Homo sapiens: one gene and its partners. The protein of the gene in region 3 purifies or fractionates together with the protein of the main gene of each other region. This does not show direct contact. Each region holds a gene or a part of one and is shown on either strand. Other genes may lie near its edges.

Region 1 (3,751 bases), on a different chromosome or scaffold from region 3:
GGCGTGCACCACCACACCAGGCTAATTTTTTTTTTTTTTTTCCCGAGATGGAGTCTCACTCTGTCGCCCAGGCTGGAGTGCAATGGCACGATCTCGGCTCACTGCAACCTCCACCTCCCGGATTGAAGCAATTCTCCTGCCTCAGCCCCCCGAGTAGCTGGGGTTACAAGCATGCGCCACCACACCCGGCTAATTTTTTGTATCTTTAGTAGAGATGGGGTTTCACCATGTTGGCCAGGCTGGTCTGGAACTCCTGACTTCGTGTTCCACCTGCTTCGGCCTCTCAAAGTGCTGGGATTACAGGTGTGAGCCACCATGCCTGGCCAGTAATTTTTTGTATTTTACTTTTGTATTTTTTTTTTTTTTGAGATGGAGTCTCGCTCTGTCATCTAGGCTGGGTGCAATGGCGTGATCTTGGCTCACTGCAAGCTCTGCCTCCCGGGTTCACGCCATTCTCCTGCCTCAGCCTCCCAAGTAGCTGGGACTACAGGTGCCCGCCACCACACCCAGCTAATTTTTTATATTTTTAGTAGAGATGGGGTTTCACCGTGTTAGCCAGGATGGTCTCGATCTCCTGACCTCATGATCCACCTGCCTCAGCTTCCCAAAGTGCTGGGATTACAGGTGTGAGCCACCATCCCCAGCTCTTATTTAATCTTTAAAACAACATTGTTATAAAGTACTGTTATTCCCATTTTACAGTTGAGGAAACTGAGGCTTAGGGAGATTGAGCCATTTTCCCAAATTGTCTCACATAATAAGTTACAAAACTGGATTTCAAACCCAGATCTACCTGATCCCAAAGCCTGTGCCCTTAATTTGTTTTTTTTTTTTTTTTTTTTTTTTTTTGAGACAGAGTTTCGCTCTTGTCGCTCAGGCTGGAGTGCAGTGGCACAATCTCGGCTCACTGCAACCTTCGCCTCCCGGGTTCAAGCGATTCTTCTGCCTCAGCCTCCCGAGTAGCTAGGATTACAGGTGACTGCCACCATGCCTGGGTAATTTTTTGTATTTTTAATAGAGACGGGGCTTCGCCATGTTGGGCAGGCTGGTCTCGAACTCCTAACCTCAGGTGATCCGCCCACCTCGGCCTCCTAAAGTGCTGGGATTATAGGCGTGAGCCAACATGCCCGGCCTTTTTTTTTTTTTTTTGAGATGGAGTTTTGCTGTTATCACTGAGGCTGGAGTGAAATGGTGCGATCTCAGCTCACTCCAACCTCCTCCTTCCAGGTTCAAGCGATTCTCCTGCCTCAGCCTCCCAAGTAGCTGAGATTACAGGCATGTGCCACTACACCCAGCAAATTTTTGTATTTTTTTAGTAGAGATGGGGTTTCACCATATTGGCCAGGCTGGTCTGGAACTCCAGACCTCAGGTAATTCACCTGCCTCAGCCTCCCAAAGTGTTATTATAGGTGTGAGCCACCATGCCCGGCCCTGTGCCCTTAATTTATAGTCTCCCACAGCCTGAGCTCTGGAGTTGAGGTGGGTGATGGACATGGACCAGAAGAACAGGGCAGGTGAGTGTTAGCATGAAGTTGACAGGCAAGAAAGAGGGAGTTTAGGCATTGGTTGGGAAGGGCCACAGGAGACGCAGGCAGTGGCCCAGGAGAAGCTGTCTGCCCTGGCTGGAGCAGGCAAATGGTGCCTGCCCCTTTTCCTTGTGCTGCATCTCTCCCCTGCAGGCTGGTACAGAAGGCAGAGCTGGTACGACTGTCCCAGACACTGAGCCTGGTGCCCCGGCTGCATTGGCTGCTGGTGGAGGATGCTGAGGGTCCCACCCCGCTGGTCTCAGGGCTGCTGGCTGCCTCTGGCCTCCTCTTCACACACCTGGTGGTCCTCACGCCCAAAGCCCAGCGGCTTCGGGAGGGCGAGCCTGGCTGGGTTCATCCCCGTGGTGTCGAGCAGCGGAACAAGGCCCTGGACTGGCTCCGGGGCAGAGGGGGTGCTGTGGGTGGGGAGAAGGACCCACCACCACCAGGGACCCAAGGAGTCGTCTACTTTGCTGACGATGACAACACCTACAGCCGGGAGCTGTTTGAGGAGGTGAGCACCAGGATGGGGATGGGCAAGAGACCAGGTGCGGCCAGCTTCATTCGTTACCTTGGTTAGCAGTGTTGCCGTTGGCTGCTGGGTGAGGGGCTGGAAGCAGTGGGGCAGAGTGAGCCAGGTGGCTCTTTCTGCTGCTCCCTTCCCCGGACCACCCCTCTGTTTCTTCTCTCCCGACCTCCGTTAGATGCGCTGGACCCGTGGTGTCTCAGTGTGGCCTGTGGGGCTGGTGGGCGGCCTGCGATTCGAGGGCCCTCAGGTACAGGACGGCCGGGTAGTGGGCTTCCACACAGCATGGGAGCCCAGCAGGCCCTTCCCTGTGGATATGGCTGGATTTGCCGTGGCCCTGCCCTTGCTGTTAGATAAGCCCAATGCCCAATTTGATTCCACCGCTCCCCGGGGCCACCTGGAGAGCAGTCTTCTGAGCCACCTTGTGGATCCCAAGGACCTGGAGCCACGGGCTGCCAACTGCACTCGGGTAAGGGAATGGAGATGGGCATAGAAACCTGGCTCTTGGATGGACAGGTGATGGGGGAGGTACAGTGAGACCCTGGGAATGGGTGGTTTAACCAGGAGGGACTCTCCAGATCTCTGATCAGCCTTGCTGACTCTACTGAAGGGGAAGCTGGGAACTAGCGGGGGAAAGTGGTCTCCTGCCACTCTGCCCCGAGTTCTGGGAACCCATGTGGCACAGAGAGGATGAAGGAATAAGGCCCTGTTTGTTGTTTTTTTTTTTTTTTCAGACAGAGTCTCGCTGTGTCACCCAGGCTGGAGTGCAGTAGCGCAATCTTGGCTTAGCGCAAGCTCCGCCTCCCGGGTTCACACCATTCTCCTGCCTCAGCCTCCCAAGTAGCTGGGACTACAGGCACCCGCTACCACGCCCGGCTAATTTTTTTGTGTTTTTAGTAGTGACGGGGTTTCACGGTGTTAGCCAGGATGGTCTCAATCTCCTGACCTCGTGATCCGCCTTCCTCGGCCTCCCAAAGTGCTGGGGTTACAGGCGTGAGCCACGCGCCCGGCCAAGGCCCGGTTTTAGAGGCACTAAGTCTTCCTCCACCCTGCCCTTTACACTTTGAAGCCTATACTGTATATGTCGATAGGGTTAGAGAATCCATTCCAGGCTCGGGGACCCAGAGGCCTGGCTGCAGCTGGGCCTGGCTCTCACTGCATCCCTCCTGGCACAGGTACTGGTGTGGCATACTCGGACAGAGAAGCCCAAGATGAAGCAGGAGGAGCAGCTGCAGCGGCAGGGCCGGGGCTCAGACCCAGCAATTGAGGTGTGATGGCGGCCCCACCCCAACTACCACCTCTTTTCAGGCACAGACCTTGTGGGACTGGGCCCCAGGCCTGCCCAGGATGTGGTTTTCCAAGTCCTGACCCTTGGAGCCAGAAGTGGCCCCTCTGCCCCTCCAGGCCCAGGGCATGGTCCTGCTGCTTCACCCCTCCCCTAGCCTGCCGTGTGGCACTGCCCACAGGCTGGGGACAAGCAGCCCTTGTGTTGAGTCAGGTTGGCCCTGTCTAGGGTGGAACAGAAGGACAGATGGACCCAGGAGGGAGGGCAGCTGAGTAACTGGGTAACTTATTGGGGCTGGGCATGCACTGGGGGGCTGGAGGAGCTGGGCTGGACCCTTCCCACCTGAGCATGCTGACCCCCTTCCTACCTCCAGAATAAAGAATCTCAACCTGGAGGGGCCTCTTGTTTTCCTTT
Region 2 (3,651 bases), on a different chromosome or scaffold from region 3:
TCCAATCCAATCCATTTTCAACGTAACTAAGATAGTTCTATCTGTAGAATACAAAGAAGTAGGCTGGGCGCAGGGGCTCACGCCTGTAATCTCAGCACTTTGGGAGGCCGAGGTGGGTGGATCACTTGAGGCCAGGAGTTCAAGACCAGCCTGGACAAGATGGCGAAACCCTGTCTCTACTAAAAAAAATTAGCCGGGCATAGTGGTGCATGCTTGTAATCCCAGCTACTTGGGAGGCTGAGGCACGAGAAACGCTTGAACCTGGGAGGTGGTGTTTGCAATGAGCCAAGATCGCACCACTGTACTCCAGCCTGGGCAACAGAGTAAGACTCTGTCTCCAAAAAGAAAAAAAAAAAGTAGAAGGATGAATGAATGAAACTAATGAATATAAGTTTTATATTAATATCAGATGTAGTAGATTTTAGTGAAGTTAGGATTATTCATTATTTTTATTTAAATACAAAGCAAAAGCTTTTTATATTACAAATTATTAACTATAACAGCTACACATTTGACTACTTACCTCTTGCCAGGCACTATTCTAATTAATTTATATCCTCAAAATAATTCTATAATATAATGCAGTTAATAAAATTTAGGATGCAACAAGACCAGAAAATGTAATTGTTGAAGACAACATTATATTATATAAAATAATGTATACACATATTATTTTATACATGTTATGTATTATTATATACACATTATTTTATGCATATGTTATGTATATACTATGTACCTATAAAATATACATATTTTATATGCATATAAAAATGTAAAACGTTATAGAACAGGATGTCTTTCAATGTGAGCAAACGCTGTTTTAATGTTTCTGTCTTAAATAACATCTGTGTGCCTGAAGAACAGTTTGCTTACATAATACTGAACTGAGGACACAGTATTGCACAGTATTGGCCAAAATACTTCTCTTTTTTTGGGGGGGGTCATTTGACATTAAGATTCAAAAGATTTCATGATTATCCAAAATATATTTGTTGAAATAGAGGCAGACTAAGTACTATACTATTTATTTTCTTACAATGGCTCTGATTGGATTATAGGACATGTTCATTCCAAATTTTATGGGTAGGAAATAATGACTGTGACTTCTCTTATATTTATAGTGGACCATAGCAAAATATGCTCCCAGGTTTAATGGGTTTCAGCAACAGGACTCCCAAGAACTTCTGGCTTTTCTCTTGGATGGTCTTCATGAAGATCTTAATCGAGTCCATGAAAAGCCATATGTGGAACTGAAGGACAGTGATGGGCGACCAGACTGGGAAGTAGCTGCAGAGGTTTGTCAGTTTTGAGTTTCTAATGTAAGCAATAGACAAAATGTTCTGGCCACAAATACATGTAGCACAACTTAAATGCAAACTCAACTATTCTGAGATCAGAACTTTACTGCAAAAATGAATGAATTTCTATTTCTGTGCTTAATTCTTATGCAATAATGCCAAAACAAAAATACGTTTAATGAAAATAGAAAACTGTTGCCATTTCATATTGTAAACTTTATGGGACTGGATGTAGGAATAATTATCCAGTGGAATTTAAAGAGTCCCCGTAATTGCTAAAGTAATGGATACAGTGACCTATAGGCATGCTTTATACTTGTTAATGGACAAATAACTTTAATATTTACCATTGTTACCTTGATAAGAACAAATGAAAAATAGGATTTTCCATCTCAATTTAATATTTTATGTTAAATGAAGAGTAAGGATTATATTCTTTACATTTAAATCCAATATATTTAACTAGCTTCTTTGAATTTATATAGAAATGCTTCTCTTTTGGATTTTGAGAGAAAATTCTCATCTTTTTTATTGCTAGGCCTGGGACAACCATCTAAGAAGAAATAGATCAATTGTTGTGGATTTGTTCCATGGGCAGCTAAGATCTCAAGTAAAATGCAAGACATGTGGGCATATAAGTGTCCGATTTGACCCTTTCAATTTTTTGTCTTTGCCACTACCAATGGACAGTTATATGCACTTAGAAATAACAGGTAGGTCAGAAAGTTCTGAAAAATTACTTGACTCCATTAAATTTACTTTATTTAAATAGCCTGAATTTGTAAGCATAGTTATTTGTTTACAAATAAAGACCGGTAGTCAGCATATTATAATTGAGCAACCTAATTTTAGGCATGACTTGAGGTTTGAAAGATGTAGACTGGGGCATGTTTTTTTGGTTTCAAATATGCCAGCAACTCTCTTTAAAACCCTGCAAAGCCACTGATACTTTTATGTCAGATGAACACCAAAAAAATACTGATTTCACTTAATATTATCCCTAAGTACCATCTGTTTTAGTGTTTACACATAAAATAAAAATTCTAGGCTGAAATATTTGCTATTATATTTACAGGTCAGATATATCTGTACACAGCATTTAAGACTTTCAATGAAACCTGCATTTTACCAATAAAAGATCTTTTCTCTTTACTAGTGATTAAGTTAGATGGTACTACCCCTGTACGGTATGGACTAAGACTGAATATGGATGAAAAGTACACAGGTTTAAAAAAACAGCTGAGTGATCTCTGTGGACTTAATTCAGAACAAATCCTTCTAGCAGAAGTACATGGTTCCAACATAAAGGTAATATTAACTACTCTAAGAAACTTTTGATTCTATCCTCCAAAGATGACATTTTTCTCAATTATTATGATCAATTGTTAGGTTATGTGACCAAGAGAGATACTAAAACATAACGAAAACTGAACAACAACAACAAAAAATGCCAAGTTTTCCAACCCAGAAACTTAAGAGTTTTCTACCAGAATAAAGGGATAATACTGATGGTGGTATTTTTGAAGAAGGGAAATACGTAAGGCTGCCTATATGGAGTGTTCTAGCTGTGTCACTATAGTATAGGTTTCCACCAAAGACTGCTGCTGTTACCAAAGACTGCTGCTATTACCCTTGACAACTCTTCTGTATTACCGCTGTTACTAGAATTCTTCCTAGGTTAAAGTATTTTATGTATTTATGAATGTGTGTTTTTAGTATTTATGAATATATATACTTGGTCTTTTAACACACTAAGAAATTAAGAGTAAAGACAAATTGACACCAATCATGTCTTTCTACATACCAGCTGGGGAAACAAATAATCTAATAAATATATTGCCTACTCTAAATTAAGCTCCTGCAACTGGTATTATTTATATTCATCTTTGGGATTTCTGAACACACTCTCACCTCACTGACAGTTTCTTAATATGAAATGCAAAAATGGAGTCTCTGAGGGTTGGAATTTAGATCCCTGAAACGGACAAAACTGAAGTCAGTCGTATATAACACACTTCTTCCTGTGAAAAGAGATAATAGTTCGAAAATTGAGGTTAGTTTTCCGTTATTTTTATCAAGCATTCATCCTTTATGTAGTTGAAAAATTATTCAATCATCTCGTTGGTTTTACGGATGAAAGCGCCTAAGACATTCTTTTGAAATATGTTAGAGAGAGAACTTTTCCATTTTATCTGAAACATCTCCCCCTTCTCATCTTGCTTCTGTTTCTGTAGAACTTTCCTCAGGACAACCAAAAAGTACGACTCTCAGTGAGTGGATTTTTGTGTGCATTTGAAATTCCTGTCCCTGTGTCTCCAATTTCAGCTTCTAGTCCAACACAGACAGGTAA
Region 3 (3,751 bases):
TCCCTGAGGGAGTAAGGGGAGTGGAGGGTGGAGAAAAAAAATTGCTGCTTCCTGGCCAATCTTCTGGGGGTTGACAATATATTTTATGAGTATTCTAAAAGTTGTATACTTAAGCAAAACAAATAAACAAAAATGCTTACTTTAAACTTGAGATCAAGGTTGTGCCTTACTTACCTTTGTATCCCCAGCAGTTACTCAGTAGAAGTCCAGGTCTAATCCACTCATTTTACAGTGCTTAGGGAGCCTGGCCCAAACTCAGAGTGAGTTATAAGGGCTGGGACAGGAATTCAGATTTCCTGATTCCTAGTCCAGTATTACCAATCTGAAGATACACGAATTTAGGAAGACAGTGGCTTTCTTTTTTTTTTTTTTTAGGTGCACCCAGTCCTGCAGTTCAAAGCCTGGCAAGACTCACCATCATCTTCCTCCTCCTCATACTGCTAATGAGAATCAGCAGCTGTGTTTCTACAGTGATAATCTGCGTATGCATGTTCGTGATGTTCCAATCACCAAAAAGGCTATTGATTTTAGGATTCCTGAGTACCTACAAAAGCTACTTAAACATCCAGGATAAAATCAGCTCCACCCAAGAATACAAGATAAGAGTTCAAATATTCCCTTGGCCATTTTTTTTTTTTAAAGAAAAGGCTGGAAGGACATGTCATAAACACCTAGAAAGATTCTGCAGTGAGACTGCTTTGCAAGTGACTTTAAGTATTCATTCCATGTTAAAAATACCATAGATAATGTAAGCCAGGGGCTAGCAAGCTCTTTCTGTTAAACATTTAGATGTTTCAGTGCTGCAATCACAGTGACCGGTGTTGGGGAGAGGGATTAGAAAGTGCCATGGTACTTAATCCAGTTACTCCCCCAACACCTCCAAGAGGTAGCCAAGTTCACACACTAAACAGAGCTACTGCAACAGTTCTAGTGCTAGTCCTTAGATTCTAGTTCCAGTTCCGGTTCTAGTGCTTAGATTCCAGTTGCATCATTCCAACTGTGAGCCTTCGCTGCTTTAACATCTTTGCCAGGAGGTGCAAAGTTCTCTGGGAGGGAGCTACCAATCATTTCATTTCAATTTCATACTGACAGATTGAAACATTCACGTAAGGGACACCTGTAGTACCAACCTGACTGTGAGGGGAAGCCCAAGAACTCCAGTGAGTCTGTGGACGCTACGCTGGGACACTATCTCCTTAGCCACACCTTGTCTAAGCCAGGACTACCCCAGGATTGTTTCGAGAATGATACCAGGTTAACCAAAGAAATACTTATGTAAGATACAGATAGGGTGGAAACTGGAGGCAGAGGAGTCCGCCACAATTGATGTTGATTTAGGGCTGTCGCAGGAAGACCCAGGGAAACCCACGCCAAAGTTGGGGTGGGGATGTGTCTGCCTCCAAAGTATCCTCCTTTCCATCACCCACCGCCAGAATATCTTAGCTCTTCTGCACCTCATCCGCGTAGAATACAGGTGGACTCTAGAAAGGGGACTTTCCTCGAGGTGTATGCTACAGTCTTTCAATAGTCACTCTGTAAGGGCACACAGTGCTTAAGGGCTGATAAGGTTCTTGTTCACCCACTAGCTCACTATGTCCTGAATCAAAGGACGAGGAATCCAGTCTCAGTCTGCCCTTTACTCTTTGTGACCTCGGACTAGTCACCCGGGTGCTTAGTTCCTTCGTCTCCCTATCTGTAAATTCTGAGATTACGAGGAGGCCGGGATTGAAATCCATGGCCTCTGAGCTCTAAAATCTTCTGGACCAGCAGGCACATGGAAGAACTGGACAAATGGCCGGTTGCATACACGGGGAAACTGAGGCACCGAGCACCCCGGCCCAAGGTCACTCTGGCTATGCCACTGCAGGGGCCGGGCCGAAGCCCCAGTCTTTAACCCTCCAGTCCCGAGCTCTTTCTCCTTCCGCGGAGCTGAGGAAAGCGGCGAGGAAGGTCCTTGTCCCGCTGGGAAAAGGACGGTACCCATGCACAGGGGTGCGAAAGAGGGGCCGAGAGAAGCCTTACCTTTCCAGGTCAAGTCCAGCCACTAGCACCTCTCTCTCCGAATCTTAACCCGTCACCCCCTCACGACTCTTCGAACGGCCCCTCCACTTCTACCCGGCTCGACGTGTCCACCACCGCCACCGAGGCCGAGGATTTCCCGCCCCCTCCCGCCCCCTAGCATTACCGACCAATCCCTGCAAGGGGCTGTGAAGCTCCGCCCCGCTGCGGGCTGGAGAGGCCTGACGTCACTCGGCGCTCGTGCCCGCGCGAGCCTCTCATTTGCCTTTGCCCCACCTTCTCCAGAGCCCAGTCTACTTTCGGTCCAGAGACCGTGCTGGAGTTCGCCCTGCCGGAAAGCAGCACGCCGCCGCGGCATTTTACGACGTCGGCGGTGACAGGCCCTGGGACTCTGGGAATACCCAGCTTCCTCCCCGCAACCCGGTGAAAGCCAACGCAATGTTCGGTGCGGGGGACGAGGACGACACCGATTTCCTCTCGCCGAGCGGCGGGTGAGTGACTGAGAAGTATGCGCTGGAGGGCGTGGCTGAGAGATACCGGCGGATTGTTGGAGGGGGGTCGATCTCTTCTCAGGCCTTTTCCCAACTTCCGGGGGGAGACCCTTGCCACATTCCGGTGCTCTACACCTCTCAGAATCTGGGCAGAACTTGCAACTGTGCTGACCCTGCCGATCTGAGGTTCGGGACCCGGCATCTCTCTTGGCGGGAAGATAGCCCTGGGTTTGCCTTTTGCATTCTGGGTCACAATTTCTCCGGTGAAATGGGAATGATTGCTGATGAGACTTCCTGCCTCAGAATTTTTATAGGAGTCAGCTGGGGCTGATGTGAGACTTCTTTTCTCCATGGAGAAGGCGAAGACACTTTAGAACCAGGCCTTGGTGGGTCAGCTCTAGCATTCTTCAAGGCCCAGCTCGGATGTCACGTTTTGGATGCTTTTCCTTCTGCAACCTCAGGCAGAATGAATTGCTTTCTCTTCCTTATTCCTGCAGCTAGGTGTGTTTGCCTCTATTCTTATACCCCGCACCTATTAGATTATGAGTCCTCACCGGACAGGGACTGCTTATGGTGTTCATTTCTGTCTAGCATGCAGCATGGTACCTAGCACATAGTGAGTGCTCAGGAAGTGGCTGTTGAATGAATAATAGCTGCGAAATTGCACTTTGTAAAGCTTAAAGCTTAAAACCAACGTAACAGACTTCTGTCATTCTCCAGTTTCCCCAAGCATTATATTAATATATACCAGCCTGGAATAGAAATCTTTAAAGAGAGGAAGGGTTTTGTCTCTTTTAGTAGTCAGTTTAGCCTTTTCCATTGTGTTGTGCCAGTGGACAGCTTGACTTCCTCCAAACTTGTGAGCTACCAAGCTCTGATCATTGCAGAGCTTTTCTTTGAACATATGCTTAACAAATTTTGTGCGTGCTGAAGAATGTACTGGAAAAATGACAAATGCACCACATATGCCCCTTATTCTGCTAAATGCTAAGAGGTTACAAAAATGATTAAACTGCTGTGCCTGCCCTTAAGTTGCTTCCAGATCTGTTGGGCCATGTGGTTTCTATTGCAACCACAAATACTCAGTTCTGCCTTGTAGGGTGAGAGTAGTCATAGACAATACATAAACAAATGAGTTAATAGATGAATGACCATAAAATGACACTGGCCTTCTTTTGTCCTTAAGTAGGAATTTTTGATTTACACTGACTAGCTCTATATTACCTACCTTTTAGTCTTTT

The links.
Region 1: the proteins of SLC31A1 (region 3) and B3GAT3 purify together in Homo sapiens (co-immunoprecipitation; 3 studies listed by BioGRID and IntAct, with this or other methods). This does not show direct contact.
Region 2: the proteins of SLC31A1 (region 3) and USP32 purify together in Homo sapiens (co-immunoprecipitation; 3 studies listed by BioGRID and IntAct, with this or other methods). This does not show direct contact.

The regions. Positions count from the first base shown.
Region 1 is NC_000011.10:62,615,276-62,619,026, reverse strand, and holds the end of B3GAT3 (galactosylgalactosylxylosylprotein 3-beta-glucuronosyltransferase 3), read left to right. Parts: intron 1-1,679; coding exon 1,680-2,040; intron 2,041-2,230; coding exon 2,231-2,521; intron 2,522-2,786; coding exon of another isoform or gene 2,787-2,841; exon of another isoform or gene 2,842-3,227; coding exon 3,228-3,326; 3' UTR 3,327-3,731; downstream 3,732-3,751. UniProt on the Homo sapiens protein: Glycosaminoglycans biosynthesis. Involved in forming the linkage tetrasaccharide present in heparan sulfate and chondroitin sulfate.
Region 2 is NC_000017.11:60,207,017-60,210,667, reverse strand, and holds part of USP32 (ubiquitin carboxyl-terminal hydrolase 32), read left to right. Parts: intron 1-1,124; coding exon 1,125-1,298; intron 1,299-1,839; coding exon 1,840-2,014; intron 2,015-2,457; coding exon 2,458-2,609; intron 2,610-3,535; coding exon 3,536-3,647; intron 3,648-3,651. UniProt on the Homo sapiens protein: Deubiquitinase that can remove conjugated ubiquitin from target proteins, such as RAB7A and LAMTOR1.
Region 3 is NC_000009.12:113,219,950-113,223,700, reverse strand, and holds the start of SLC31A1 (high affinity copper uptake protein 1), read right to left. Parts: upstream 2,158-3,751; 5' UTR 2,023-2,157; intron 1-2,022. Other genes in the region: FKBP15 (FK506-binding protein 15), read left to right, coding at 2,458-2,510.